3 linked regions of the Homo sapiens genome follow. The protein of the gene in region 3 interacts with the protein of the main gene of each other region in a biochemical or structural test. Each region holds a gene or a part of one and is shown on either strand. Other genes may lie near its edges.

The links.
Region 1: the proteins of ARL8B (region 3) and PLEKHM1 form a complex in vitro, tested with the Homo sapiens proteins (one study listed by BioGRID and IntAct).
Region 2: the proteins of ARL8B (region 3) and RAB14 form a complex in vitro, tested with the Homo sapiens proteins (one study listed by BioGRID).

The regions. Positions count from the first base shown.
Region 1 is NC_000017.11:45,471,825-45,482,157, reverse strand, and holds part of PLEKHM1 (pleckstrin homology domain-containing family M member 1), read left to right. Parts: intron 1-3,069; exon of another isoform or gene 3,070-3,116; intron 3,117-4,010; coding exon 4,011-4,258; intron 4,259-4,270; exon of another isoform or gene 4,271-4,520; intron 4,521-6,244; exon of another isoform or gene 6,245-6,270; intron 6,271-6,431; coding exon 6,432-7,058; intron 7,059-10,333. UniProt on the Homo sapiens protein: Acts as a multivalent adapter protein that regulates Rab7-dependent and HOPS complex-dependent fusion events in the endolysosomal system and couples autophagic and the endocytic trafficking pathways.
Region 2 is NC_000009.12:121,197,098-121,207,335, reverse strand, and holds the start of RAB14 (ras-related protein Rab-14), read left to right. Parts: upstream 1-5,466; 5' UTR 5,467-5,697; intron 5,698-5,735; exon of another isoform or gene 5,736-5,853; intron 5,854-10,238.
Region 3 is NC_000003.12:5,124,174-5,134,506, forward strand, and holds part of ARL8B (ADP-ribosylation factor-like protein 8B), read left to right. Parts: intron 1-4,286; exon of another isoform or gene 4,287-4,642; intron 4,643-10,333. UniProt on the Homo sapiens protein: Small GTPase which cycles between active GTP-bound and inactive GDP-bound states.

The sequences.
Region 1 (10,333 bases), on a different chromosome or scaffold from region 3:
CACAGTCTGGCCAAAGCACTGAATGGGTGGGAAACAGATATTCCCAGGCACTGGTTTGTTGTTTCAGTAATGGGGGTAAATTGGTAACTTACATGTATCTGAACACTTACCATTTTCTAGGATATTCTAAATGTAATTATTTGTGAGCAGTTCACTGGAGCCCCCTAGGACCTTTTCTTGGACAGCCCTTTGCACCCTCCTGGGCTATCTTGGGTACTCCAGATAGAGCTCTCTGTTCTCTTGGAGAGGCAGGAAGTCAGGTAGCTTTGGGGCTGGTCCCTTAGCAGCATCCTGAGATGGCTTTCGGGGAGAAGCCAGGATTTCCTTTCCTCCCCACTGCTGCTTCCCAGCTCAGAGAACTCTGCTTGAAAGAAACTGTAGCTCTCAGAGACGTGCCTTTCCCCGTCCTGGCCACAGGAGAGTCCAGCTCCACCTGTTTCCCAGCTGGCTTTCATGCAGAGGCTCTTCCCTCCCCTCTGCACCCCCACTCTCCCACCCCCAGTGCCTGCCGAATCCCACCCCAGGACCCTCCAGAGCTAGGGCAGAAGCCTGGCCAACCCAGCCTTCTAACAACAGCTGCACAAACTGACTCCATGAGGGTATGCCTTTCTTGAGGGTATGCCTTATTTCTCCCTGTATACCCTAACCCAACACCTAGTAGGTGCTCAATTGAACGAAGTATGTATGTACTTTTTAAATATAATATACAAATAACATCTTGCTTTTAAAAGAACATTTAAAATTAGACTATTTCAAGATTAAAAACTTTTGAGCTTCAAAGGATACTACCAAGAAAATGAAAAGACAACCCACAGAATGGGAGAAAATATTTGCAAATCAAATATCTGATAAGGGTCTAGTATCCAGAATGTATAAAGAACACTTATAACTCAACAATAAAAAGACAAATAATCCAGTTATAAAATGGGTAAAGGATTTAAATAGACCCTTCTCCAAAGAAGATACACACATGGCCAATAAAGATGCTCATTATCATTAGACATCAGGAAAATGCACATCGAAACCACAGTGAGATACTACTTCACACCCCCTAGGATGGCTGTAATAAAAAAGGCAATAACTAGTGCTGGCAAAAATGTGGAGAGATTGGAACTCATATATTGCTGGTGGGAATGTAAAATAGTGCAGCCACTTTGGCACACAGTTTGGCAGTTCCTTGATAAGTTAAACATAGGGTTATGTGTACAGTTCCACTCCTAGATATATACCCAAGAGAACTAGAAATATAAGTCCACTCAAAAACTTGTACATGGATGTTCATAGCAGCATTATTGATAATAGCAAAAGAGTAGAAACAACCCAAATGTCTATTAACTGATGAATGGATGAATAAAATGTGGTATATCTAGGCAGCGGAATATTTTCTGGCAATAAAAAGGGATGAAGTCCTGATACATGCTACAACATGATGGAAAATATGCTAAGTGAAATAAGTCAGATTCAAAGGGTCATATGCTGTATTGATATCTATTCATGTGAGATGTACAAAATATGCAAAGCCACAGAAACAGAAAATAGATTAGTGACTGCATTCACTTCGTATTCCCCTTTCTCCCAGCCCCTGGCAATCACTAATATACAGTATTTCTTTTTGGGGTGATGAAAATCGTTTTTTTTGTTTGTTTTTTTGTTTTTTTGTTTTTTTGTTTTTTTGAGACGGAGTCTCCCTCTGCTGCCCAGGCTGGAGTGCAGTGGCACAATCTTGACTCACTACAAACTCCACCTCCCAGGTTCAAGTGATTCTCATGCCTCTGCCTCCCAAGTAGCTGGGATTATGGGTGTGCACCACCATGCCCGGCTAATTTTTGTATTTTTGGTAGAGATGGGGGTTTCACCATGTTGGCCAGGCTGGTCTCGAACTCCTGACCTCAGGTGATCCACTCGTCTTGGCCTCCCGAAGTGCTGGGATTATAGGCGTGAGCCACTGTGCCCGGCCAGAAAATCTTCTAAAATTAGGTAGTGGTGATGGTTGCACAATTGTGTGAATATACTAGAAACAATTGAACTGTATACTTTAAATGGGTGTATTTTATGGTATATGAATTATATCTCATTAAAACCGTTATATTTTTTCAAATTTAACTTTTCAAAGAATGTTAACATTTAGTGTTTTGGCTGAAATCAAAATAAAAGATTAAAATATGTAGCCATAATCCTATCACCCAACAATTCAAACCAGTTTTTCTGTAATCCCTTCCAGTCCTTTTCCAATCACTTATGTGATTTTCACATGCTTATAATTATGCTCAATTTTTACTCTATATTTCCAAAAGACTCTATGTACATTTTGTGGTGTATCATTTAACAAACATTTATTGAGTATTTCTATGTGCCAGGCACAGTGCCAAGTGTTGACACAAGGATGAATAAAACACTAGTCTTAGTGCCACACTCAGCTCTTTTATATATATGTTTTTTGTTTTGTTTTGTTTTGTTTTGTTTTGTTTTTCTGAGATGGAGTCTCACTCTGCCACCCAGGCTGGAATGCAGTGGCACGATTTTGGCTCAGTACAACCTCTGCCTCCTGGGTTTAAGTGATTCTCCTGCCTCAGCCTCCTAAGTAGCTGGGATTACAGGCACTCACCACCACACCTGGCTATTTTTTTTTTTTTTTTTTTTGAGGCGGAGTCTCGCTCTGTCGCCCAGGCTGGAGTGCAGTGGTGCGATCTTGGCTCACTGGAAACTCCGCCTCCTGAGTTCACGCCATTCTCCTGCCTCAGCCTCCCGCGTAGCTGGGACTACAGGCGCTGCCACCACGCCCAGCTATTTTTTTGCATTTTTAGTAGAGATGGGGTTTCAGCCTGTTATCCAGGATGGTCTCGATCTTCTGACCTCGTGATCCGCCCACCTCGGCCTCCCAAAGTGCTGGGGTTACAGGCGTGAGCCACCGTGCCCGGCCCACACCTGGCTAATTTTTGCATTTTTAGTAGAGACAGGGTTTCATCATGTTTGCCAGGCTGATCTCAAACTCCTAACCTCAAGTGATCCGCCTGCCTTGGCCTCCCAAAGTGTTGGGATTACAGGTGTGAGCCACCACACCCAGCCTCTTTTTAGAATTTATCTAGTAGGTTTTCTGGTTTTCACCAGAAACCACTTCCCAAAAAAAAAAAGAAAAAAAAAGGTAGTCCTGTCCTCAGGAGAATCCTCATAGTACTATAAATCAGAAAGTATTATTTCCACTTTAACAGATAAGGAAATTGAGGCTCAAAGCGGTTAAGTGGAATGTCTGAGGAGGCCCATCTGGTTACTGGCAGCTAGGACTGAGCCTAGTCCTCTGGCTTCCAGGCCTAGGATCTTTCTTTTTTTGAGACAAGGTCTTGCTATGTTGCCCAGGCTGGAGTACAGTGGTGTGATCACAGCTCACTGCAGCCTTGAACTCCTGGACTCAAGCAGTCCTCCTGCCTCTGACCTCCCAAAGTTCTGGGATTACAGGTTTGAGCCACCACGCCCAGCCTAGGATCTTTCTTAAAGTAAACCATGCTCCTGTTCTCCTCATGTTTTTATTGTTCTAAAGCAGTGTGGGTGTTTATTGTTTGTTTGTTTTTGCCTCTTGGCTTATTGATTCTCTACAGAAGCTTGTCCATGTAAAAAAGGTGGGAAGCCCCACCCTTGTCCTAGATGGATTTACCCAAGCTCCCATCACTGCAGCTATGATGGGGCCAATATTTAAACACAAGATTATATGGCTCTAAGTTCACTTAAGTTTGGTCTAAAAAACAAAAAGTATCTATACTAAAGGACATATGAAACAAACAATAACAGTAATTATCTCTGGGTAGTGTGTGTGATTTTCCTTTTCTTCTCTATGCTTTATCTTTCTTTGCTGTAGTTAACAATGTGCTAATTTTGCAGAAGGAATCTACAGACACACACATAGATGTGTGTGCATGTGGTTGCACACGTATTTGGCACCAGCTAAAGGATTACACTCTAGGGACTCTCCATAGGATTTTCCGCTAAAGGCCTGTGTTCTGTGTGGTGCTGCCTAGGTCATCAAGAAGAAGCTGGTGGGATCCGTGAAGGCCTTGCAGAAGCAGTACGTGTCCCTGGACACGGTGGTCACTAGTGAAGACGGAGATGCCAACACCATGTGCAGCGCCCTGGAGGCCGTATTTATCCATGGCCTGCACGCCAAGCACATCCGAGCTGAGGCCGGAGGAAAAAGGAAGAAAAGTGCCCACCAGAAGCCTCTGCCCCAGCCTGTCTTCTGGCCCCTCCTGAAAGCTGTCACCCACAAGTGAGATTTAGCTGGAGAGGTTTTGCTTTGCGGAGGAGCAGCAGACTATGGGACACTTGGCTTTTCCTCCCCAGCTGTTCAGGAAGCCAACAGAGGTGCCCTGTGTTCTAGCATAGAGAGAGGGTGAGGTAGGGGTTGAAAGTGTCTTCTAGAAAGGCTTATCTCTAGACCAAGCTTCCCAGCCAGTGTGCCAGCAGATCTTGAGACCCTCAGCACTCAGGCAAGAGCCTGTGGCTGCTTTGAGACTGGTCACAAAAAGCAGGTGAGACTGGCCACCTTTAGCAGGAACAGCCTTTTTTGCCACACTGGGGCAGAGTTACATAGTTACAACAGAGGTTGTGTGGCCTGCAAAGCCTGAAGAATATACTATCTGGCCCTTTACAGAAGGGCTGACCCTGCCTTGGATTTGCTGACCCTGCCTTAGATTATTCAAACATCCGAATTGTAAATCTTTTTTTTTTTTTTTGGGATGGAGTTTCGCTCTGTCACTCAGGCTGGAGTGCAATGGCGCGATCTCGGTTCACTGGCACCTCTGCTTCCCAGGTTCAAGCAATTCTCCTGCCTCAGCCTCCTGAGTAACTGGGACAACAGGCGCGCACCATCACGCCCAGCTAATTTTTGTATTTTTAGTAGAGAGGGGTTTTGCTATGTTGGTCAGGCTGCTCTCAAACTCCTGACCTTGTGATCTGCCTACCTCCGCCTCCCAAAGTGCTGGGATTATATAAAGAGTGGAATCAGGAAAAGCATATGAATATTCACCCTGAGACACTTATCTCTTTGGCCCCTAACTGTCTGGGCTTTTGAGCAAGTAGCTGGCACTGTGCCTCTGAGGACTACTAAATGCCACCTTCAGCCCAAAAGAAGCCTTGTCAGTCTCTAATCTTCCTTTCCATGCAGATTGCCACTGCCTTGTCTCACGTTCTTCTTTCCTGGGTGACACTGGCTTTCTATTTGTCCCCCTTATCTCACTCTGTCTTTCCTTGAGTCCATCATCTGGTCAACATTTACTGAGCTGAAGCTCCCTGGAGCTTACTCACTGAGCCTAGTAGAGTGCGGTCTACATTCCCATGGAGGAGATAAACCTGCGCTAGGGACTGTGGTAGCTCAGAGGGGCATGTACATCAGACGGAGGCATTCTGGGACTGAGTTTGGTACACCTGGGGTCTGATCTCCTTATGCAGAACATCTACCCTGCAGTCTGCATGACTGTGGTCAAGTCACTTTTCTAAACAAAAATCTGTAGCCTACAGGCTCCCAGATGCTAGCCTGGAGACTGATTCACTAGGTTGGGGTCCCAGAACTTGTATCCTGCTCAAGTTCCCCAGGGGGTTCTGGTGCACAGCTGGGTGTGGGGCCATTACCCCGTGTTGCCTTATTGATTTGATATTTAAGACCCTCTCTTTCCTGGCCTTGCAACCAAACCACCCACTTTTCCGCCACATGCTGTAATTGGAGCGCTCCCCAATCCTCTTACAGGGTTGTTGATTTCCTACACTTTATGCCTTTTTCCATCAGTCCCTTGTGCCTGAGGGCAGGGACCATGTCTTTACCCTGCATCTTCATTGCTCCAAGGACTTTGCACTTAAGGAGCTCTGACAGCATGCCTTAGATGAGCAGATGTGTCAGGGGCCCCGTGGTAGTTGGAATGAACATGGAAATTATCTTTCACAATTCCAATCTCAAAATATATATATATATATAATGTATAAATATATATAATTTATATTTATATATTTATTATATATAAATATAAATATATATATATATATTGCCTAGGCTGGAGTGCAGTGGTCCAATCTCCGCTCACTGTGACCTTTGCTTCCCAGGCTCAAGCTATCCTTCCACCTCAACCTCCCGAGTAGCTGGGTAGCTGGGACTACACGTGCAAGCCACCACATCTGGCTATGTTGTTGTTGTAGAGACAGAGTTTCGTCCTGTTGCCCAGGCTGGTCACGAATTCCTGAGCTCAAGTGATCCACCTGCCTTGGCCTCCCAAAGTGCTGGGATTACAGGTGTGAGCCACCACATCTGGCCTAAAACACTATTACCCAATATTTTTTCATGCCTGTATCTATTTGCAGTAGTTATTCCTGGTTCCTGCTAACCAGTGGATAAAAGCACATCTCTGTGATTTGGGGTAGTTTCTTGAAACACGTCTGTTCTCCCTTCCCAGACACATCATCTCAGAGTTGGAGCACCTGACGTTTGTCAACACGGATGTGGGCCGCTGCCGGGCATGGCTGCGGCTGGCCCTGAACGATGGCCTGATGGAGTGCTACCTGAAGCTGCTGCTGCAGGAGCAGGCCCGCTTGCATGAGTACTACCAGCCCACCGCCCTGCTCCGGGATGCTGAGGAGGGCGAGTTCCTCCTTAGCTTCCTGCAGGGCCTCACGTCCTTGTCCTTCGAACTCTCCTACAAGTCTGCCATCTTAAATGAGTGGACGCTCACCCCATTGGCCCTGTCTGGGCTTTGCCCGCTTTCTGAGCTGGACCCTCTCTCTACCTCTGGTGCAGAACTACAGCGGAAGGAATCTCTGGATTCCATTTCCCATTCTTCAGGCTCTGAAGACATCGAAGTCCATCACTCGGGCCATAAGATACGGAGGAACCAGAAGCTGACTGCCTCCTCCCTCAGCCTGGACACGGCCAGTTCATCCCAGCTGTCCTGCAGCCTAAACTCTGATAGCTGCTTACTCCAAGAGAATGGCTCCAAGAGTCCAGACCATTGCGAGGAGCCCATGTCCTGTGACTCAGACCTGGGCACAGCAAATGCTGAGGACTCAGACCGGTCTCTGCAAGAGTGAGTACGCTGCCCCCACTCCTTCCCATCTTCTCTCTTCCCTCCTTTCTTTCCTCTCCTCCTCCCTTTCTTCCCATAGCATGTGATTGTCTGTTACTGAACTCTATTAGTAATTAAAGAAAGCCAAGGGAGTCATCGACTTCTCCAGGGACTGGAGTAGCTGGGAACTGTAGCAGGCAATACAGGCATAGTGGAGAAAGTGGACTTAGAACAGCTTAGAGCTGGTTTGGGCTCCAGCTCTGCCCCGGTGACTTTTAGCAAGTTACTTGGCCGGGTGCGGTGGCTCATGCCTGAAATCCCAGCACTTGGGAGGCTGATACAGGAGGATTGCTTGAGCCCAGCAGTTCGAGGCCAGCCTGGGCAATGTAGCAAGATCCTGCCTCTAAATTAAAAATAAATAAATAAATAAAACAAAAACTGAAAACAAACAATAACAACAAAAAAACAAGATACTTAGTCTCTACAAGGCACAGTGTAAAATATTGTTGTCTTCATCTAGAAGGAAGGAAACTAATAGGTCAGAGTACATTTAAAACGTCCAACAAATAGATGAAACATAACGCATAAGAGTGTGACTTCACAGAATACCTCCTGGGGGACACAGGACCTGAGTGCTGCATGCAGGAGGTGGTGGACAGGTGGGGACAGACAGATGTGTGGAAGAGTATGTGGGGCAGATGAACTAGGCTGAAGAGAGAACTGGGCAGAGCCTTCTTCACACAGCCTTTTAAACATTTTTTTGCAGCTGGGCACGGTGGCTCACGCCTGTAATCCCAGCACCTTGGGAGGCCAAGGCAGGTGGATCACAAGGTCAGGAGATTGAGACCATCCTGACTAACATGGTGAAACCCCGTCTCTACTAAAAATACAAAAAATTAGCTGGGCATGGTGGCGGGCGCCTTGTAGTCCCAGCTACATGGGCGGCTGAGGCAGGAGAATGGCATGAACCCGGGAGGTGGAGCTTGCAGTGAGCTGAGACCGCACCACTGCACTCCAGCCTGGGTGACAGAGTAAGACTCTGTCTCAAAAAAAAAAAATAAATAAATAAATAAAATAAAAAATTTGCATAGATAATCTTTTTATGGTTAAAAAAAATCTAAAACATATACAGTGAAAGCCTTTCCCATTCCTGTTCTCCCTCTACCCTGTTCTTTCCTCCCACCCCTAAAACCATAATAATTTCCTGTATATTCTTCCAAATTTCTAAATGCATCTACAACAAATACCAGTATAAAGATTTTCAGCTGGGCGCAGTGGCTCACGCCTGTAATCCCAGCACTTTGGGAGGCCGAGGCGGGCGGATCACAAAGGCAAGAGATCGAGACCTTTCTGGCTAACACGGTGAAACCCCATCTCTACTAAAAATACAAAAAATTAGCCGGGCGTGGTGGCGGGCGCCTGAAGTCCCAGCTACTCAGGAGGCTGAGGCAGGAGAATGGTGTGGACCCAGGAGGCGGAGCTTGCAGTGAGCCGAGATCGTGCCACTGCACTCCAGCCTGGGTGACAGAGTGAGACTCTGTCCCAAAAAAAAAAAAATAAAAGATTTTTAAAATTTCTTCCTTATTTATTACTTTCTCTCCTACAAAGGCAGTATATACACACTGTTCTATATCTTGTTTTGGAGAAGATCTTTTCATTTCAGAGCTTCTTCATTCTTTTATTTTTATTTTTTATAGAGACGGGGGTCTCACTGTGTTGCCCAGGCTGGTCTTGAACTCCTGGGCTCAAGAGATCTTCCTGCCTCAGGCTCCCAAATTGCTGGGGATTACAGGCGTGAGCCACTGCGCCCAGCCTCATTCTTTTTTTTTCTATTGCATATTGTTCTAGTGTATGAATGTACCTTAGTTTACTTAATCAGCCCAGTATTTAATGGGTGCTGGGGCCTGTGTTTTCATAAATAACCTTGTGTATGTGGTCTTTTAGTTCTGCGTAGCTATCTCTGTTCCATAAACTCCCAGAAGCAAAATTGCCGAGCAAAAGGATAGACTAATATGGAATGTTCACAGATTATTGCCCATTTACACTCCACCAGGAATGTCCTTGTTTCTTAGCCTTGCCAACTGATGGTATTAGTGAACTTTTGGATATTTGCTCATCTGATAGGTGGAAAATGGGAACTTCTTATTAAAAGCCTCCTTCAGCTGGATCCATGCTGCATCAGCGGAAAAGAAGGTCCCACGTGTTTGGGACCTTCTTTCCACTCGCCCTGTGCCCTCGCCTTGGTTCAGGTCCCTCCAGGGTTCTCACCCACCATGGAAAGAGCACCAGCGTTGGGTGGTGTTACGGACTGGGCTTGGAGCCGACCTAGTTTCGAGTCCTGTTCCACCACTTACAAGCCCAGGAAGGTCAGGCACATTGTTTGTTAGTCAAACAATATAGGAGATTGTCTCGTAGTCCCAGAAATGGCTTCTGAGCATATTAGGTGGAGTTTTCAAATGTTAAATGGAGGAATTTAGATAGAATACATTGGGGAGGAACAGTGTCTGCCTCCTGTGACCACTGGGACCATGGCATGACAGGCCTGCAGTGTGACCCAGGCACAGGGCATGACCTAGGTTCACTCACCTGTCTTAGCCCTTCCTGTGTGTCTGCCTCCTCTGCAGACCAGCCAGCCATCCCTTGTCATATGTCTCGCCTTTATCTCATGTGTCTTGTGATGGAAAATTCCAGCTTAAGGTCACTGAATCAGTGACCATCCTCTCTGTGCAGGAAGTGTTGTCCCGGCTATTATGGGGAAACTGGAGGGTCAAGGGTCAGGATGTATAGACAAATGCCGGACAGTGGTGTGAGTAACTGGCAAATGTAAGACATACAGATGCACAAACACACAGCCAGCACCAGCATTCATAGAGCTGGGCCTTGAAGTTAGTCCTTGAGCATCCACAGAGACCAGCATTTCTTGAAGTGTATATTTCAAGGGTAAAATGTTCTCACCGACATTTAGAGTTCATCAAAGTTGTTACATTATTTAAATATTTGTAACTTTAAATTAGACATAAATTCCTTGTGCTTATCATTACACATATAAAATCAAAACATCCACAAATCAAACATAAAGAAAAGCATAAAAGACACAACATTCAAAATGAAATTTATTAATATAAAGCGGTTCTGTTTGGCAGAAACCAAATTGCAGTTGGCCTAGTGAATTGACTGTCCTAAATAGCTTCTTCCGTGTAGATTGGATCTGTATTATAATCATCACTGAGTGGCATAGGTATAGTCTGGAGGGTTTAAGTACTTAGATTTAAGTACTTAGAATGGTCCCTGGCACA
Region 2 (10,238 bases), on a different chromosome or scaffold from region 3:
AGAGAACTGATGCACATATGCTGATGCTCATGCTGCTTGCTGTGCTGTGAATAATACAGACCTCTGTCTTTGACTCAGAAGTCTCACATCTTCTGCCTGTATCCATGAAACTGGCAGGCTGGCTTGTTAGCTTGCAAGTAGAGTAAAATCTCAGTTCTCAACAGCACCTTCATCATCACTTTAATTCAGTTGTGTTACATCACACATGCTTTTAACTCGCATTATTTCAACTAAATGTACAAAGTCAGAAAAAGCAATAAAGAAATAATTTAGATATCAATCTCCCTTCCCTTTTTCTGAATAAGTGCATGCCTTGGAGTGAGCATGCAATGAAAGAGTTAAATGTTTTCTCAGTAGGTCTCAGTTTCCATGTGGATCTCACGGTGTGGTCATTATGCCCCACTGAGTGTGAATCTAAAGTTGAAAGATGTTTACCAAGCATGGTGGCACATGCCTGTGGTCCCAGGCTGAGGTGGGAGGGTGGCCTGCGCCTGGGAGGTGGAGGTTGCAGTGAGCCAAGATCACTGCACTCCAGCCTGGGTGACAGAGCCAGACTTAGTCTCGAAACAAACAAACAAACAAACAAAGTTCAAAGATGCATTCTTTTTTTTTTTTCATGTAACATGGCCTCTTAAGTCGAAACCACCAACTTCTGGTCGTCAGCCAAAGGAATGCTTCAATGACAATAAATGAGTCTCCGGTAGGGTGCTTTCCTGGGAAAATTTCAAGCTTGCTTTTTACCTCATTAATGTCATGCCCTCATAAGCTGTGACACGAGAGGATATTTTTTGGGAGGGGGTGGTATAAGGTGTATGGGGAGATGAAAGGGCACTATTTCAATGGACACACAATTTCTTTTACAATTGAATACAGAATGTACTTATTGTTACATTTATGCATCACCTTTTTTTAGTGTGATAAGTTGAATCTAATCCTTTTTCATACCCAGAGACGAATGAGTCTCATGCCCTTGATTTTGATTTCTTTGTCAACCTACTAAATTTTGAAGTATATTAATTGCTGTTTCTGTTTTGGTTAATGTCGACAGCCATACCACCATGACCGCACCTGATCTCAACTTTTTTTGGTTAAACTAGCTTTTTTGACCATTTCTTTTTAATTAAATTATGTATCACTGGAAGTTAATCAACTACATTAAAATATATTCGTTTTTTAAATTAGGTAGAACACACATGTGGTAATAAAATTTAGAGTACAAATTGTATTAGTTCTTCTAAATCTTCAATACTGCTTCAGGAATTGGGACACCAGTATTTTAAAGTCTGAGTGTGGCTCGGTGGCAACTCCAAAACCACTAAACAAAAAAGATTCAAGCATAGGGGTAGGGGGGAATCTCCAATTCAAGATAAGCCTATGAACCAAAATTCACAAGCATAAGAGGAAAATGAACAAATAAAATTAAGCCTATAATGAGGAGATGAATTAATTTTGTTTAAATAAACACAACAGAGAGATCTGAAAATGACTTTAATTGTTTAGGCTCTGGGAAGAGATGAAGGATAAAATAACATCTACTTTTTACAAAACAATTTATAAAAATACAAGCAGAAATGAAGCCAGAGCAGGTGACAAACAACCTGCACACCTGGAGGATTCCAGGCATCTTCCCAGGAACAGGTGACCCCTCACACATTTGCTATATCTTCCAGCAGATGGTTAGCTTGTGTCATTATGCCACACTCCTCTCTGATGGACACTTCTTTGCCGTACTCCAATCTGGGACTAGAAAGTCAAGGTGGGAGGAAGGGATAAGGGGAAGCAACTTCAGCCCCTCTTCATCTAAGGTTCTCCCCACACCATCCAAAGCCCCTCCAGTGCTGTCTCTCTCCATCTGTGTTCTCCTTTGTGCAGGAAGCAATAGGGCAGAGCAGATCAGTGCTGCCCAAACAGATAGATATCCAGGGAGTTGTCAGTCCCATCTTCCTGCAGGCACACCCAATCCTCACTGGTGATTCTTTTGGAGCCCCTCTCCTTTGGTTCTAGATGAGGACACAGTCTCCATGAGGGGACAGAAAGAAGGCGTCTCTTTCCATGACATTACAATTTCCCTAAAGGCTGACTTCCCTCCCATGTCTCCAATCTTTCTTTCCACAGATTACTGGTGATGGTGTGTCTGTGGGGATGGGGTTGGAAATGGGGAATAGGTGAGGGAGTAGTGGAGTGGAGGTAGAAGTTGGTCAAGAGCTGACTTCTTCAACAACTGCTCTTCAAATTCCCTGCTAGAAGGTAGCTGGCCCCAGCCACTGGCAGTTTTTTCAGTGTAGAATGTGAGCTCCTTGTGGGCTTTTTATTTTCAAGTTTGGGCTTCAGCAACAGATCCAGGACAATAGGAAGAGATGTATACATGGAATAAACCCCTCTCAATGTCTAGTTACATAAACATACATGTCTTCTTTGCCCTCCTCTTATAGTTTAACAAATGTTGGCATACTATTTAGTTTTCTGCACCTTGCTTTTTTCCCTCCAAGTATTTCCTAGACATTGTTCCATATCAGGACATATACATGGGCCTCATTCTTTTTGATGGCTGCATAGTATTTCACAATATAGATGTACTATAATTTACTATTACAGCTTTCTAGTGATAGACATTTAGTTTGTCTCTAGTTTTTTGTTATTACAAACAGTGCTGCAGTGACTATTCCATGTATACATCTCTTCTTATAGAAACAACTTTTTAAAAAAGTTAAGTAGAAACCCCAATGGATGTTTGGCACCCAATGGACAGTCCCTCTTAATTATGCTGCAACTGGTCACATACACTCTCCTCACTTTGAAAATTCTGGGACTTATTAAAAGAATTGACCATTCCTACTGTTTTTTAATTGCATTCCTTAGCATGTGATAGGCACTCTGCATCCACAAGAGTGTTTCTGTTCAAAGCTGCATCAAAGTGTAATGTCTTTCACATAGGAAAGCAGCAGTTAGGGACCTGCATTTAAGCTGGCTATTGTGAAACAAGAGCAAATAAGGGAGGAAATGGAATAGGGCTTAGTACAGCCCTGAGGTCACATGTTGCCAGATTTAAGTCCCACCCAATTTTCACCTAAACGACTTTAGATCTGTATGACACTCAGTTTTTTCATTCATAAAATGGGGTAAATATAGTACTGACTTCATGCGGATGTGGTAAGGATTAAATGAGAAAATATGCATGATTCTTAGGACAGTTGCTGGTACATAGTAAGTGTTGAATAAACATCAGCTATACATAAAGATCTCCCTTCAGGTGATAATGGCTATAAGGAAACTTACTAGCCAGGTCTAAGTTCATACCTGGGCAATTAATGATCATTGGTTCACAGTTTTCTCCTTTACTTGGCACAGGCAAATTTCTTAGTTTCAAAAATGTTAAAGTGTGACAACAAACTATACTTATTAAAGAATGTGGAAATAGAAGCCTAGACCTCTAGGGTTGCAAAAGGATTTCAATATCACCTTAGATTAGATTATCATGTAATAATCATTTCCATTTCTTATTATATACCAGATATTTTGCATATACTATCCCATTTAATTTTCACAAAGACCTATTTGAGAGAGATATTACTATTTTCATATTGCAGAAAAGACTGACAATCTCAGAAATCAAGTGACATGCACAACTGCATACCATTAGATTATAGAGCAGGAATTCGAACCCAGGTCTCTGAAAATATGAGATGTACAAACTGGCACACACTTTTACAGTGAAATCTCACTTGTTCATGGCAGAACCAGTTCATAAAAGGTCCTGAACGCTAAGAGAAAGATTGATTTAATTTGGGGGTGGGGAACTAAGGCAGGGCCACCTTATCCATTAGGCACAGTACAGTATGCACAGGGCTTAGGGCCTCCAATACTTTTAGGGGCCAACAAAAATGAATATTTATTTATTTTAGAGACAGGGTCTCCCCATGTTGCCCAGGCTGGAGTGCAGTGGCTGTTCACAGGTATGATCCCATTACTGATCAGCACGGGAGTTTTGACCTGCTCCATCTCCGACCTGGGCCGGTTCATCCCTCCTTAGGCAACCTGGGTGGTCCCTCCCTCCTGAACTTAAGTGCAGACACTCTATCTAGTGACACAGTGCACTACAGCCCAGAACTCCTGGGCTCAAGCGATCCTCTCTCCTCAGCCTCCCCAGTAGCTAGGATTACAGGCGCAGACTACCAGCCCTCCTTGCTTACGTTCCTTTTTTTTTTTTTTTTGAGACAGTCTCGCTCTGTTGCCCAGGCTGGAGCGCAGTGGCGCGATCTCGGCTCACTGCAAGCTCCGCCTCCCGGGTTCACGCCGTTCTCTTGCCTCAGCCTCCCGAGTAGCTGGGACTACAGGCGCCCGCCACCACGCCCGGCTAATTTTTTTGTATTTTTAGTAGAGACGGGGTTTCACCGTGTTAGCCAAGATGGTCTCGATCTCCTGACCTCGTGATCCGCCCGTCGTGGCCTCCCAAAGTGCTGGGATTACAGGCGTGAGCCACCGCGCCCGGCCGGCTTACATTCTTTTAAAGTCAGAAGAAAAAAATGAACTTTCAGGTCAGAGAAAATATTTTGTTATATAATATTGATACGTCATGTTTATATCAATGCAGTTGTAAAATATGTTAAATATTTATACATATATTTAACTTACATGTGTGTGAAATATATGTGTGTGTGTAATGTACAAGCCACAAGGCAAAAGTGCTCAGGGTCCAAGAAAGTCAAAACGTGTCCCTGCACCCGAAAAGCACGAAACCTTCTGGGGCAGTGATTATGGCAGAGCAAGTTGGAAGATGGCAGGTGGTAGACAAATTGTGAAAAATATCACATTTCTCTCACCCTGTCAAAGGCAACCCCAAAGTGAAGTCAAAATAGAGATGAAATGCAGGGTCACTTCCTAGCTGCGTGATCTTGGACAAGAGAGTTGACCAACCTGAGCCTCAGTTTCTCCATGGATACAATGGGGATGCGTGCCTCCGACGTTTGTTGGACAGGACCGGTATATACGAAGCATACAGCGGTATATACAGTAAATGCCCCCATAAATACACGTTGAATGAATGCAGTAAATGCATGCTTAGCATGGTGGCCAGTATACGGTAAGCGTCCAATAAGTGGTAAATGTTGGCTTTAAAAATTGTTCAAAAGTCTCCACGAGCGACAACCCTAGTTCTCCAAGACGCAGGCGCACCCCACCAGGTTCCACGCAGACCTGCGCAGTAGCTCCCCCAAGAGGCGAGGACACGCGACTGCGCTTGCGCATACGCGCTTTCCACCTTCCCTCCGGGCGCGAGCGCCCGTGGGGCGGGCCTCAGCGGCGGCGCGACAAGTCCAGAGGTGAGGGCTGAGGAAGGGGCGTGGCTAGCGGGCTGGCCTCAGCCACCCTCTTCCGGGCTCCGCCAGCTGCGCGCGCATCTTCTCCCCCTTCTTTTGTGGTCCGGCCCATTGCGAGGGTGACAGGAAACCCTGTGCAGGGAGCGCCGCCATCTTGGACCAGCCCGAGGAAGATACTGAGGGAGCACAGGAGCAGTCACCGCTGCCACTGCTACTGCCGCTACTGCTGCCGGCGCGTCTGCACCTCTCGGCCTGCCAGTGTACCTGCCGGCGCCTCGGTCGACCGCCCCCGCCCCCTCTCCCGCTGCGTCCGCACTCCTGTTCCTGGTCCTGACGCCCCCCTCCCGCCCGGAAAGCTGCCCAGCCACCAGCAACCCCCCAGGTAACCCGGGCCTTCCGTAGTGTCCGGCCGGCTGATACCTCCTCGCGCCGGGTTCTTCAGAGGGGCGTGTGTGGGGACGGTGGAGACTGGGCCGCAGGCGGGCGGCGCCCCGGGGCCAGGCCCCGTCAGGCCGTGGCTAGCCCGTGGGTCGGCGGTGAGCGCCGCGGCGCCGGCCTGACAGGACTCCTGGGCGGGGGCGGAGGTGTCCCCTGCGCGGCTCCGGCCTGAGCCTCCTGCCCTCCCCAACCGGCGGGGCGCTCCGAGGCGTGCAGGGAAGGGTGTGTTCCGGCCTCGCCTTCCCCGCCTTCTCGGCGCGGCTGGGCAGGACCGCATCTCCCGCGGGCCCCCCTCTCGCCGCTGTTCCCCGCGGCCGCAGCCCGCCCCCGCAGGGTGTACCCACGCGTGCCGCGCCGCCCTGCAGCCCGCAAGCCCCAGACGTGGCGGTCCCGTCCCGTAGGCCGCGTCTGGCTCTGAGTACAAAGGCAGCTCTTCGCAGCCCTCTTGGCGTCTCGGGGCAGCTCCGGTGTCCTTGTCGATGTGGGGAGCCCGGCCCTGCAGCCGGGCCGGGCCGGGGCCGGGGTCTGGGTCTGTGCGCCTGTGCTTGCGATGTCCTGGTTTTGGTGCGTTCCTGTGAGGCCCGTGGACAGCCTCTACGGCCCTGAACCTACAGAGCATCTAGAAATAAGAGAAAGTTGTGGCATTTCTAGAATCTAAGAGAAGACGACAGAGCTGGAGTGTTTTAAGCGTTTTAACTGTGGGCCAGGTACATATTTATGTATTTTTGTACCTATTTATCTTGCCCCGCGTAGCCCTCGGAGATAAGTTGTCTCCACTTCATAAGTGAGGAAACTGAGGCCTAAAGTTGTGATGTGTGTCTGGCTGTTGATGGTACATTACAAACTGGCTTCGGCTCACACTGTGGCTGGTGGTTTCTGTACTACATTCAAAAATTAGGCTAGGGTTACAGACATGACCATTTATAATGTAGTTACAACTTTATTCCTTTTTTACTGTGTTCGCATTGGATGACAGCTGATTACCCTTTTATGACCTAAAGTCCATAAAGTCAACCACTACACTGGCAAATCCTCATGCTTACAAACCCCAAAGGAGAGATGCCAGGATTTCAGTTTCATATATGAAGAAGAAACGGGTTCCAAGAGGACAGGTGCCTTCCTGGTGACCCCACAGCAAGTGTCAGAGCCCAGATTTGAACTCTTGCAAAGTTTACTGCTCATTTCGTTACTATCCCAACTGCCTTTAAAAAATTCTTTTATTTTTCTAAGGTAAATATTGTAGAGGAACAACTGCCTTTTATTTAGATTTGATTGTTGAAGACAAACTTGACCTTGCAGTAATCCAGCTCCTACCCCTTTATTCCCCCAAGCCTTTCCAAATTTTTTCTTCCAAGTTCTGTTTAGGCAGTTTTATTTGATCATGCCTAGAGGTATGTCGTGGTTAAGAGTTTTGGAGTCATACTGTCAAGGGTTCTCCCTCCAGTACTGCCACTTCCTAGTTAAGTGATCTTAAGCAAGTTACTTAACCTTTCGGACTCAGTGTCCTTATCTATAAAGGGGATAATTGGACCTGCATCTTAGAGTTGTTGCTAGGATTAAATGGGGTTTAAAGAAAGCCCTTAGCACATTGCTTGGCATATAGTAAATCAGTGCCTGTAACAGTGCCAGGCACATAGTGGGTGTTTAATATCTTTTGAATGAATGAGAGAGGAGTATAGCTTTGGAGAGCTACATGTAGAGTTAAACCTGGGCCTTAATTCTAGCTCTCCATTTAGTAGTAGTATGACCACGGGTAGATCACTTCGGTTTCCTTATCTGAAAAATGAGTTTTTAGGATTAGAGACTGTTTATAAAGTAGCTGGCATGTGTTAGGCCCTCAATAAATGGCAGTTATTGTAAAGACGTAAAACCTTAGATTATAATAGCTATTAAAAAATCCCTTGAAATTAAAGCTACATCTTAAAAAGTTGTTGCTTTTTTTGTATTACAGTTAAACTTTATCATTGTTGCATACTTCAACTTTGCAACAGAATTTGGAGTGTTCATTTTTATCAATATCAAATATCTTTGCATAGTCACAGTAAGATATTGTGCTAGTGGAGGAAACTTGATTAAGGTAAATAAAATGTGAAAACTTGGGCTATTGAGAGATGTTTCATGTTTTTTAAAAGAGGCTTGAAACATTTTTATGTGGTAAAAAATGCCAGGCATGGCTAAAGACAACAGTTTGACAAATAGAAGTATTAGAGGTACTGTACTTGACTTTTAAAAAGCTTCTTATTCTAGACAATTTTAAATATATACAAAATCAGGTAGCATACTGAGCATTCATATACCTATCAGCCAGTGTCAACAGTGATCAGTCTTGCTTCATCAATATACACTTGCCTCCTCCTTGCCAAATTATTTTGAAGCAAATCTCAGACACAATATCGGTAGTAAAATTTTCACTATTAATCCTTTTAACTTGAGCAGTAAGTGCAGGGGTTTTTTTTGGCTTTTTGGTTGTTAAGTGCTTTCTTTCTGTAAACAGAGGTCCAGTATTAGAATACTTTATTTCCTGTATATAGAAGACCATCAAAGTTACTTTTGCCACATTAAGCAATCCAGCTTTTAAAAATGATTCACATTATTTATATAAAAGTGACATTAAGTATATTGTCAAAAGTAAGGTTTTTTTTTTAAGTGGGTGGGCTACTTGTACTACTGTTGAGGAAATTGACCACTCATTTTTATTAGATTAGATTATTAGATTAACTACAGAAGTTTTATCCGCCTGACTGACAAATCAGGTAGTAGTGGTCCATTTTAGTGGGCCTCTAAAGCAAGTCAGCATGCTTCTGTTGTTGAGTTCCACGAAGGCAGAGACAGTGTTGTCTTTTTTGATCATTGCTGTCTTGCTAAAGCCTGGCACAATGCTTTGTGCTTAGTAGATACTTAACAGATATGTTTATGTTGGAACTACAGAAGCAGTCCATCTCAGCTCTGGTATTTTTAACAAAACGTCGTGCATGTTAAAAAACAAACAAAAAACTTATCAGTGGAAATAACAAGGATAAGAATTAAATTACCTGGAATATTTAATGGGTTGCTTTTCCCTTGTTATGTCTTGGATCAGCTATGTAAAAATTATACAGTAACATCATAGGTTCTAAGGAGTAGAATAGCTGTATAACAGTTTTTAAAATCAGAGCAAACAGTAAGTAGTTAAGCTATTAAAAAACTCCCAAAAATATGCCCTCTACTATTGAGTGTTGGTTTTTCTATTTTGAACCCAATCGTATTATTGGCTTCATAAGATATTCCTCTTATTATCAGTAAATGCGGAAATAATGTTGGGAATATTATGAGTGGGAGATTTGTTTGTTTTTGTTTGGGTATTCTTTAACCTGTATTAAAATAGAAAAGGGCTTTTGAAATATTTATCGGTAGAGAAAATTTTATTTTTAATTCATTATAGTAAGTCAGTGCAGGGATATATAAAGAAAAGTTAATAATTTCTCTATTCCCTGTTTCTCCTGTCCATGTATTTTTCACAATTTGGTGTGTATTCCATATTATATGAATATAGGGTTGAGTGTGTGTGTGTGTGTGTGTGTGTTTGAAAGTGGGGTATGCTGTTGCATAAAACTCTGCAACATGTGTTTTTTCACTTAACAAAATCATGGATGTATTTCCAGGTTAATGCATATCAATCAAAATGGTTTCTAAACTACATGGATATTATTTTGTATTATAGATGTACTTTATTCAGTCATTTCTTTGCTGATTATTTCCAGTTTTTTGCTGTAAAAATGGTGCATTAAATGCACTAATACCTGTAGCCTTATGGGCTGAAGCTTTTGTATATGTAGGATACTTTCTGGGCCAAAGGATGATTTGGATTATTGTTAAGATTTTTAAACATACTGATTACTTTCCAAAATGTTGGCACATTTCCACAAGCAGTATGTATGAAAGTGTATACCTTCACATCTGTACCTACATGTTTCAAAACTAGTCGTTTATATGTCTGTGTAATCTTAGAAAGGTGTCTGATTCAGTAAATAGAAACCATGCATTCTATTTTTGTCACAACAATAATTAGTGTTTAATATTTGTTCAGTAACCACTTAGATCTAAATGTACTGACATGAAAATGTGTCTATCATTTTGTTGAGTAAAAGAAATATGCAGAATTTTACAAGATGGCGTACCCCATTTTAAAATACATTTTTCACCTTAACAGTGGTGAAAATGGTGGTGAAAAATGGTATATTTTCACAGTGGTGAAATGGTATGTTTCCCCAGTGGTGAAAACTGGTATGTTTCATGTTCAGGAGATGAGGTTGAGAAATCCTTTATTAAAGCAATATTAAGCATATTAATATTTTTAAGGAGTCAGTTGAATACATGGCACAGTTGTTAGTGTTTACTATGCATTTAGTAAATATTTCTCTTGGCAGCAAGGGTAGTTTATAGCTAAATTTTACATGCACTAATATCCTTCCTCTTTCTCTGATTTTTATTTTATCAGTCTACCTG
Region 3 (10,333 bases):
TTGTAATATTATGATTTTTTGCGCTTGGAATGACTATCTTTCCGCAGGAATAGAAGAGTGGAATGTGTATCTAATACCACTAATTTTTTTTTTTTTTTTTTTTTTTTTTTTCTGGTAGAGACAAGATCTTCCTATGTTGCCAGGCCAGCCTTGAACTCCTGGGCTCAAGCGAGCCTCCTGCCTCGGCCTCCCAAAGTGCTGGCATTACAGGCATGAGCCACCGTTCCTGGCCTAATACCACTAAAATTAATGAGGAAACATGAACTTCGGGTTACATATTTATATTAGAATTTTTTTCTTTTCTTTTTTGGAGACAGGGTCTTGAGCTTTCACCCAGACTGGAGTGCAGTGGTGCAGTCGTAGCTCACTGCAGCCTCCAACTCCTGGGCTTATGTGATCTTCCCTGTCTCAGCCTCCCAAGTAGCTGGGACTACAGGCATGTGCTACCACCATGGCTCGCTATTTATTTTTAATTTTTATTTTTTATAAAGACGGGCTCTTGCTATGTTGCCAGGGCTGGTCTTGAGCTCCTGGCCTCAAGCAGTCTTCCTGCCTTGGCCTCCCAGCATACTGGGATTATAAGCCTGCTAGAGCTTTTATATAATATGGAAAAGATGAGGCATAAGCTTGAGTGAAGTTGAGCTCAGTTAACTGTAAATTTTCTCATATCCCCTTGAGATGAGAATTGGAGTCATCTTGTAAAACTTGCTCTTTGACAACATGGAATTAATGTTTCATGTGGATAGGTGTATTAATACAGCCAGTTGTATTTGTTGCAGTTGAGTTGTTATGCTTGGGAACTCTAAAAAGTTGAGCAAATCTTTGAGAAACTTCTTGGTGATTTTTATGCTTCTGTTTTCAGTAGACAGTGTAGCTTAATGAGCATGACCTTTGAAGTCAGACAGCCCTGGATTTGAAATCTGGCTCTGCCGCTTAGCAGCCTTACATCCTCTTTGAGTCCTTACTTTCCCATCTATTAAATGGAGGTAATGATATGTTTCTTACAGAGTTGCTCTAGGGATTAAATGACATGAAAGATGTTAAGTGGCTAGCACTCATACTGGCCCACAGAAGGGGATAGGTAGATGGTAACTGTTGTTATTTGTAATTGGGCGTACCTGTTTAATGCAGGAACGATGGCTTGAAAAATACTGAGAAGGGACTCAACTGGTATCATTTTCTACTTTGAATCACTGTATCTATCCAGATGTGGGCTGCAGTAGTGGATTTATGGATTGGGGAAAGTAATCGCATCATGTGTTCCCCCCTGCCCCGCCCCCACCATTAGATTATTATATTTAACAACAACAAAACTTCTGCAAAGCTGTTGAAGTCAAAGTGAACCAGTGGCTCCACCATTATCTTTTTTTTTTTTTTGAGACGGAGTCCCGCTGTGTTGCCCAGGCTGGAGTGCAGTGGCATGATCTTGGCTCACTGCAACCTCTGCCTCCTGGGTTCAAGCTATTCTCGTGCCTCAGCCTCCCGAGTAGCTGGGACTACAGGCGACTGCCACCATGCCCAGCTAATTTTTGTATTTTTAGTAGAGACGGGGTTTCACCATGTTGGGCAGGCTGTTCTCGAACTCCTGGTCTCAAGTAATATGCCTGCCTTGGTCTCCCAAAATGCTGGGATTACAGGCGTGAGCCACTGTGCCCAGCCCACTGTTATCATTAGACTATTCTTTTTAAAATTGTAATGGTGTGGGTAGCTTCAGTTAAGAAAAAAAAAGTCACAAAGATAAGGTGATGGATGTGTAATTGGCTTGAATTAGTCATTCCACACTGTAAACATGTATCAGAACATCTCATTGTACTCCATAAATGTATACAATTATGATTTGTCAATTAAAAGTAATATTAATTTAAAAAAGAAAAAAGACATCTGGGCTGTAATTGGCTGTGGCTTTTAAGATGCTGAAAGGGACCCCCTCAGTGAATTTCATACTTTTTTTTTTTTTTAACCTCAAGGCTCTAACCTAACCCCTGATTCTTATAGAATATGTTGAGGATGTAGTGATTAAAATCCAAGTTAGTGATTAAAGATGATTTTAGAGATTTTTAGGTAGAAACAATGTGTCCAAAATAGTAAGTTTAGCCTTTTAAAAAATCAGCTGCACTTTTTGTATTGTATATAAAATAGTTGCTTTATAGAATCAGAAATACAGATGTATTGAGTACTATGTGTCACTCTAGAAAGGTGACCATTTACTTATTCACATTTAAGAAGCGACTTCTCAGGTATGAAAAGCTTCAGCTGAAGCCAATTTTCTTTTTGTAAAAATCAACATTTTGTAAACATTAAAATGTCACTACATGTGCCTTAAACATTAAGGAAGATTTAATAGATGTCATTTAACTTACTCAAAAGGTTCATGAGACTGAATTACTATTATATGTAGGGTTTGGTTTGAGTCTAAAAGATAATGCAGCTTAGTTACAGAATGCTCAGACTTAGAATGCCTTTCCTTAGGATTTTAAAACTGAAATGATACCTAATTTAATCCAGTTTTATGTAGAGACACTTGATATATGTAGTGTTCTCTTTTGTTTTGAACATTATAAAAAAGAAACACCCTAGTCTTGTCTTTTCTGATTAGTGTCAAGGAATGAAGTATTTTTTCCATTGCTAACTGTTCTGGCAGTTATTGCACAATAAGTCATGTGCCTATATGTGTAATGTATATTGAGTAATCTTTATTTTTAACTGGGGCTTTTAGATATGTTATAGTTATTAAAAAATATCTAATAGGATTTGCCAAAATAATATAGGATAAATCTTATGGACATTATGTATTTTTTAAATGGAAGTATAAAAATTTGTCTACACTTTTGCACATTGTTGATACCTGAAAGGTTAATCCAAGGGAAAGTTTATTACTGCTGAGAATTAGGAAAAGAAGATATTTGGGAAGACTGTAGAAATATGAACCTAGAATCATTTTTTAAAGAGTTTGTAGAAACCTTGATTAAGTAGTCTAATTTTCCCCTCATTTTTTAGATGTGGCTAGCAGATCCAGTGAGGTTAAGTGGAATTCCAAGGCAACAAAGCTAATTCGTAGCAGAGATAGAATTAGAATCTGGGGCCAGTGTACTTTCTACTTTTCCCACCTCTTTAGATCCAGCTGAGGTTAGAACCATAGAACTGTGGATTGGGAGATCTTAATCCATTAAACATCTTTTTTGTATTTAATTTAATTTAAAAAATCAGCTGCAGTTTTTGTATCGTATATGAAATGTTTGCTTTATAGAATAAGAAATACAGACGTAATGAGTACTGTGTGTCTCTCTAGAGAGAGCATTTTAAATCCAGGCATCTTAAGCATACTGACTAACATTTGAGGACTATATATTTATCTATGAACATGAATTAGGAGAAGGAATGATAATCTGTGGAAAGTAAGAGTGGAATATTATGTTTGGATATTTAAATAACTGGCTAACAGGCATTACTGAGTTGTTGAACTACTTTTAGTATCTTTAAAAAGCAGAGGGAGATCAAGACCATCCTGGCTAATGCGGTGAAACCCCGTCTCTACTAAAAATACAAATAATTAGCTGGGTGTGGTGGTGGGCACCTGTAGTCCCAGCTACTCGGGAGGCTGAGGTAGGAGAATGGCGTGAACCTTGGAGGCAGAGCTTGCAGTGAGCCAAGATTGCGCCACTGCACTCCAGCCTGGGCAACAGAGCGAGACTCCGTCTCAAAAAAAAAAAAAAAAAAAAAAAAAAAAAGCGGAGGGCCAGGCGCAATGGCTTACGCCTGTAATCCCAGCACTTTGGGAGGCCAAGGCGGCCGGATCATGAGGTCAGGAGTTTGAGACCAGCCTGACCAACATGATGAAACCCCATCTGTACTAAAAATACAAAAATTAGCCTGGCGTTACTCAGGAGGCTGAGGCAGGAGAATTGCTTGAACCTGGGAGGCGGAGGTTGCGTTGAGCCGAAATTGAGCGACTGCACTCCAGCCTGGGCAACAGAGTGAAAATCCGTCTCAAAAAAAAAAAAAAAAAAAAAGCAGAAATAATTTTGTATTTGATTGTATTGCTTATTATTTAATTTCTTTGGAGGTAAGAATGGCAAAAACCATTTTTAAAGAAAATGGGCTGTGGTTCAAGTCTAGATGTTTTACACATCTGAAACTTGACTGGAGAAGCTAGTCTTCCAATAAGGTGGTCTTCAAGTATAGATTCTGAGTTGTGGAAAATGAGGCATCTTACAAAGGAACATCTCTACCTTCCATAAAGTTTTCTACCCTTCATCCCCGCTCCAATTATTTGTTTTTCCTTGCAGACCAAGAATCTTGAAAGCCAAATGTTCTCATTAAGAAGCTGTTAGAGTGCAATAATGCATTCTAAATGCCTGTCTTAGAAGATATTTCACAAGTTAATGGATTTTTTAAGTTTTTCAAAGATATAGTAAGTGGATGGTTACTGAACATGGATACAAAATACATTGAACCTATAAAAAAGTTACTCAAATATTATTAAAAAATTTTTTTTCTGAAATTTTTTTTGTGTTATCAAAACAATACAGGCTCATTAGCGGAGATGTGAAAAGAATAGTATAAGGTAGAAGAAGCCACTTATTTCTACCATCCAAGATTAACTACTGTCAACATTAAAAGCATTTCGTTTTTGTCTTCTTAATGTGTATATCCAGATGTCTTTTAAAAAGTTCTGAGATAATATTACTTATAATGCTTTATATTCTGGTTTAATTGTTACAGTGTATGCATTTTTCTATCTAAAACATTTTTCATGTCTTCATAGTTTATTCCATTGTGGTATGTCTTGTGGATATGCCATAACATATTTGGTAATTCCCTTATTGGACATTTGAGGGATTTTTCCTATGTTTTCCTATTGTACTCAATTTGATCTGCACTTCCTGAGGATGTGTTCCAGAGTTGGTATTTCTGGGTCAAAAACGCATTTTATGTCATATGGCCAAATTGCTTTCCAGAAAGTGTACACTCCCACTGAGAAGGTCTGAACAGTTTTTGTTTTTTGTTTTTTGTTTTTCCAGATAGAGTCTCGCTCTTGTTGCCCAGGCTGGAGTGCAGTGGTGTGATCTTGGCACACTGCAACCTCCACCTCTCGGGTTCAAGCAATTCTCCTGCCTCAGCTTCCCAAGTAGCTGGGATTACAGGTGTTTGCCACCTCGCCCAGCTAATACTGAGCAGATTTCATATATAAAGTTGGACTTTGGTTAAGCACTTTGTCCTCTGGTATTTTTTAGGACAAACATAGTTTTGTTGATGAAGTAGAACGGTATTTTAAAATTATCCTATTAGATACTGCTCTGTTTGTGTTTAATATATTTTAAGAAGTTCCTTTTTATATTTCAGCAACTGCCAAGACTGATAACTATAGAGAACATAATTCTTTCTGAGACAAGTTCTTGCTCTGTTGCCCATGCTGGAGTGTAGTGGCATGATCATGGCTTATTGCAGCCTCCACCTCCTGGGCCCTGGCTCAAGAGATCCCCCCACCATAGCCTCCCAAGTAGTAGGGACCACAGGCGTATGTCACTACGCCTGGCTAATTTTTTTAAACAAGATTTTTGCTGCTGGGTGTGGTGGCTCACGCTTGTAATCTCAGCATTTAGGGAGGCAGAGACAGGAGGATTACTTGAAGCCAGGAGTTGAAGACCAGCCTGGGCAACATAGTGAGGCCACATTCTCCACATTCTCTCTCTCTCTTTTTTGTTTTTCAGACAGAGTCTTGCTCTATCACCCAGGCTGTAGTATAGTGGCATGATCTTGGCTCACTGCAACCTCTGCCTCCTGGGTTCAAGTGATTCTCCTGCCTCAGCCTCCCAAGTAGGTGGGACTACAGGCACGTGCCACCACACACAGCTAGTTTTTGTATTTTTAGTAGAGACAGGGTTTCACCATGTTGGCAAGGCTGACCTCGAACTCCTGACCTCAGGTGATCTGCCTGCCTTGGCCTCCCAAAGTACTGGGATTACAGGCGTGAGCCACTGCACCTGACCAAGGTCATATTCTCTTAAAAAAAAATATATATTTTTTTTTTGTAGAGACTTCATCTCACTGTGTTGCTCAGCCTGGTCCCGGAACTCCTGGGCTCAAGAGATTCTCCTGCCTCAGCCTCCCAAAGTGCTGAGATTACAGGCAGGAGCCACCACGCCTGCCCCTGAGAACATAGTTCTTTTTTGTTGAGCTTCCCAGGCAAGCCATGTAAATATAAATACAGCTCATCCCCTTTACTTATCATGCTGCTATTTTGTTTTAGAAGTATTGGTAGATTGCATATTCCATAACCCTGATATATTTCAGTATAATCCTTACCTAATCTTGGACCTATTATAGTGGGATGCTGCTTGCTTGCTTGTGTGTGTGTGTGTTTTTTTTTTTGGCGGGGGGATGGAATCTTGCTTTGTTGTCCAGGCTGAAGGGCAGTGGCATGATCTCGGTTGACTGTAACCTCTGCCTCCTGGGTTCAGATGATTCTCCTGCCTCAGCCTCTCCCCAGTAGCTGGGATTACAGGCTTGCGCCACTACGCCTGGCTATTTTTTGTATTTTTAGTAGAGATGGGGTTTCGCTACGTTGGCCAGGCGAGTCTTGAACTTCTGACGTCAAGTGATCCGCCCGCCTCGGCCCAGGCATGAGCCACCACGCCCAGCCTATGAACCTATATTCTTACTTCAGTATGCAAAATGTAGCATAATGTTAAGAATGAGGTTGCTTAAAATCTAGGCTACACACATAGTTAGGCCTGCCTTTTCTTCGCTCTTTTCTTTTTTTTCTTTTTCTTTTTTTGTTTTTGAGATGGAGTCTCACTCTGTCATCCATGCTGGGAGTGCAGTGGCACGGGGATTCAAGTGATTCTCCTGCCTCAGCCTCCCGAATAGCTAGGACTACAGGCACCCGCCACCACGCCCAGCTAATTTTTGTATTTTTAGTAGAGACGAGGTTTCACCATGTGGGCCAGGCTGGTGTCAAACTCCTGTGATCTGTCCGCCTTAGCCTCCCAAAGTACTGGGATTACAGGTGTGAGCCACCGTGCCCGGCCACCATTTTCTTGAAAGCTCATTTTGTCCGGAGAATGTTTTAATGCCAATACATGGACTTCATCATTTGTAAATAGTTCTTATCAGAGGAAAATCTAGGAAAAGAAAGGAAACCTACATTTCTCTCCTTCATAATTTAGCTATTTCGTTTCTAGCTTTTGGCAATCTTATTTCAATAAAAAAATTAAAAAATTTTTTTTTTTTTTGAGACAGAGTCTCACTCTGTCACCCAGGCTGGAGTGCAGTGGCGCGATCTCGGCTCACTGCAACCTCCGCCTCCCGAGTTCAAGCGATTCTCCTGCCTCAGCCTCCTGAGTAGCTAGGGTTACAGGCGCACGCCACCATGGCCAGATAATTTTTGTATTTTTAGTAGAGACAGGGTTTCACGATGTTGGCCACACTGGTCTTGAACTCCTGACCTCAAGTGATCCACCCACCTCGGCCTCCCAAAGTGCTGGGATTACAGGTGTGAGCCACTGCACCCAGCCTACCCGTTTCTTAAAAATATTAAATTGACGTTACAGGTTTTCATTAACCCTTATATGAATATTTTGGTTACTGCCATTATTTTCTACTCTTAAGTGACTGAAATGTTTAACTTTGGTTTTTGTCTTTTTTTCAGAGTTCCGGTAATTTCAGAAATGAAATGATTTGACTAGTTTTATCCTTTGAATTTTTCTGTCATTCTTTCCTTTTTTTGAGACAGGGTCTCACCCTGTCACCCAAACTGGAGTAAAGTGGCATAATCATGGCTCACTGCTGCCTCAACCTCTTGGGTTCAAGCAGTCCTCTGCCTCAGCTTCCTGAGTAGCTGGGGCTACAGGCATGTGCCGTCATGCCCAGCTAATTAAAAAAATTTGTTTTTTTGTAGAGGTGGAATCTTGCTGTATTGCTCAGGCTGATCTTGAACTACTGGGCTCAAGCTGTCCTCCTTCCTTGGCCTCCCAGTGTTGGGAGTACAGGCATGAGCCTGTACTGTGCCTAAGTCCTCCCATCCTTTCTGTAGTAGGTATTGCCCTAAGTTAGGATTGATCATATTCCCTATGATCATCATTATTATTTTTTTTTTTGAGGCAGAGTCTCACTCTGTCTCCCAGGCTGGAGTGCAGTGGCGCGATCTCGGCTCACTACAACCTCCGCCTCCCTGGTTCAAGTGATTCTCCTGCCTCAGCCTCAGGCTCTCCCCACCATGCCCTGCTAATTTTTTTGTATTTTTAGTAGAGATAGGGTTTCACTATGTTGGCCAGGCTGGCCTTGAACTCCTCACCTTAGGTGATCCACCTGCTTCGGCCTCCCAAAGTGCTGGGATTACAGGCGTGAGCCACTGCGCCCGGCTCCTCTCATTATTTTTAACCATCAGAAATTATCTTGTTCTCTTGTTTCTAATAGTCTGTCCCTTTTCACAGAGCCAAGACTTTATCATATTTTACAATGCTGTACCCCATTGCTAAGAACAGTCCCTGCCACATGACAAGCTCTTTAAATACTGAATGAATGAATGAATGAATAATAACAGCAAAGTATACCTACTCCATGCATGTTTAAACTAGGTGCAAGGCATTGTGATAGATAACTTATAAATGTACCAGACAAGGTCATTTATGGTCGGGTATGTGCCATGTATAGGAGAGGAATATTAAGTGCCTTAAGATACAAAATGCTATTGGAATTCTCCCCTGACCCACCCCATTAAGACATTGGAGGAGTTTTATTTAGTAAGGCTGTTTGCTGAGTTTTGGTTGGACAGTGGCAGGAATGGCTTTTGAGCTGGGTTATAAGAGTAGAGGAATTTCATTTATTCAACAAATATGTCAAGCAGTGTTTTGGGCAGCATAAATATAATGGGGAGCAAAGCAGACAATGTTCTTGCCCTTGTGGAACTGCCGATATCATGTGGGGAAAAAAGATATTCAAGCAGGAACAGTGGGAAAAGCAAAGGCACAGCTGAGGGAAAGAAATTTTTTTGTTGGTTTAGGCATAACCTTAGTGAAGGAAAAAGAAACAAAGGCTGGAAAAGTAGATCAGTCAGCTCCCACAGGGCCTTGACTGAGTGTGACATTAGGCATGGAGGGCCACTGAAGGTTTTAATTCAGAGGAATAAGATAAGACCTGTGTTTCCGAAGGATTAATTTAGCAGCAATATAGAGACCATCCGCAAGGAAATTGGTTACAAGGTTATTACAGAGGTCTGGTTGAGAGACATTGAGGGAGACAGTTGGGGAGGAGGGGAAAGGTACGCATTATTATGGAAATAGGATGAGTACAATTTAGCAATTAAGTCAGAGGTACAGGACAAAGGGGAATTTGCAAAGACCCTTTTAAAGATTTGATTGAATGGTGGGGAATATGGTTGTACCATCAGCAAACAGCAGTTACAGGGTGGGGAAGAAAGAATGGGTTTAGAAGAAAAAGGGATGATTTGAGTATAAATTGTATTACAGGCTGGGGCGTGGTGGCTCATGCCAGTAACCCCAGCACTTTGGGAGGCTGAGAAGGGTGTGGATCCTTTGAGCTCAGGAGTTCAAGGCCAGCTTAGGCAACATAGTGAAACTCTGGTCTCTACAAAAAATAAAAAAATAAAAAAAATTAGCTGGATGTGCTGCTGCGTGTCTGTGGTCCTAGCTGCCGGGGAGGCATAGGTGGTAAGGGGATGGCTTGAGTCCAGGAGGCTGCAGTGAGCCATGATGGTGCCACTGCATTCCAGCCTGGGCGACAGAGTGAGACCAGGTCTCCCCTGCACTGCACAGCACACCCCACACCCCTGGAAAAAAAAGTGTTACATAATTAATGATATAAAGGGATGGCTGGTTGGAAATGACAGGCTATGAATGCTATATTTAAGTTCAGTGGCACAAAAACTGAGAATTAACATTTCATCCAATTCCTAATTTTGTCTTCAGGAGTATAAGAGATACAGGAAGTAGTTGAGATCCATTCCTAGTTTCTCTTCAAAAGAGTGGGTTGTAGGATCTTTTATTTCTACTGATTGCTGTCACTTACCGTACCCTGCTGATGACTCGTTTTGCCAATGTTTCGGACACAAGGACTAGGCAGAATGTTCTCCACTCCTCAGGATTGCTGTTGGGCTATCTTGATTTATTTGTGTATTTATGTACATGAATCTGTGGCCAGAATGCAGTCTGCCCAGAAGAGGTCTTTAATAGCTGGGATGAAGGCTGTATATTCAGAGTGGGTCAGATTCGTTTGCAGGCTGGGAAGCCTTTGCTGTCGAATTCGAAGAGTAATTTTTCTGTTTCTGGAAAGTGCCTGGCTTAGGTTTGTATAGTGACTTTCTACTGAAGAG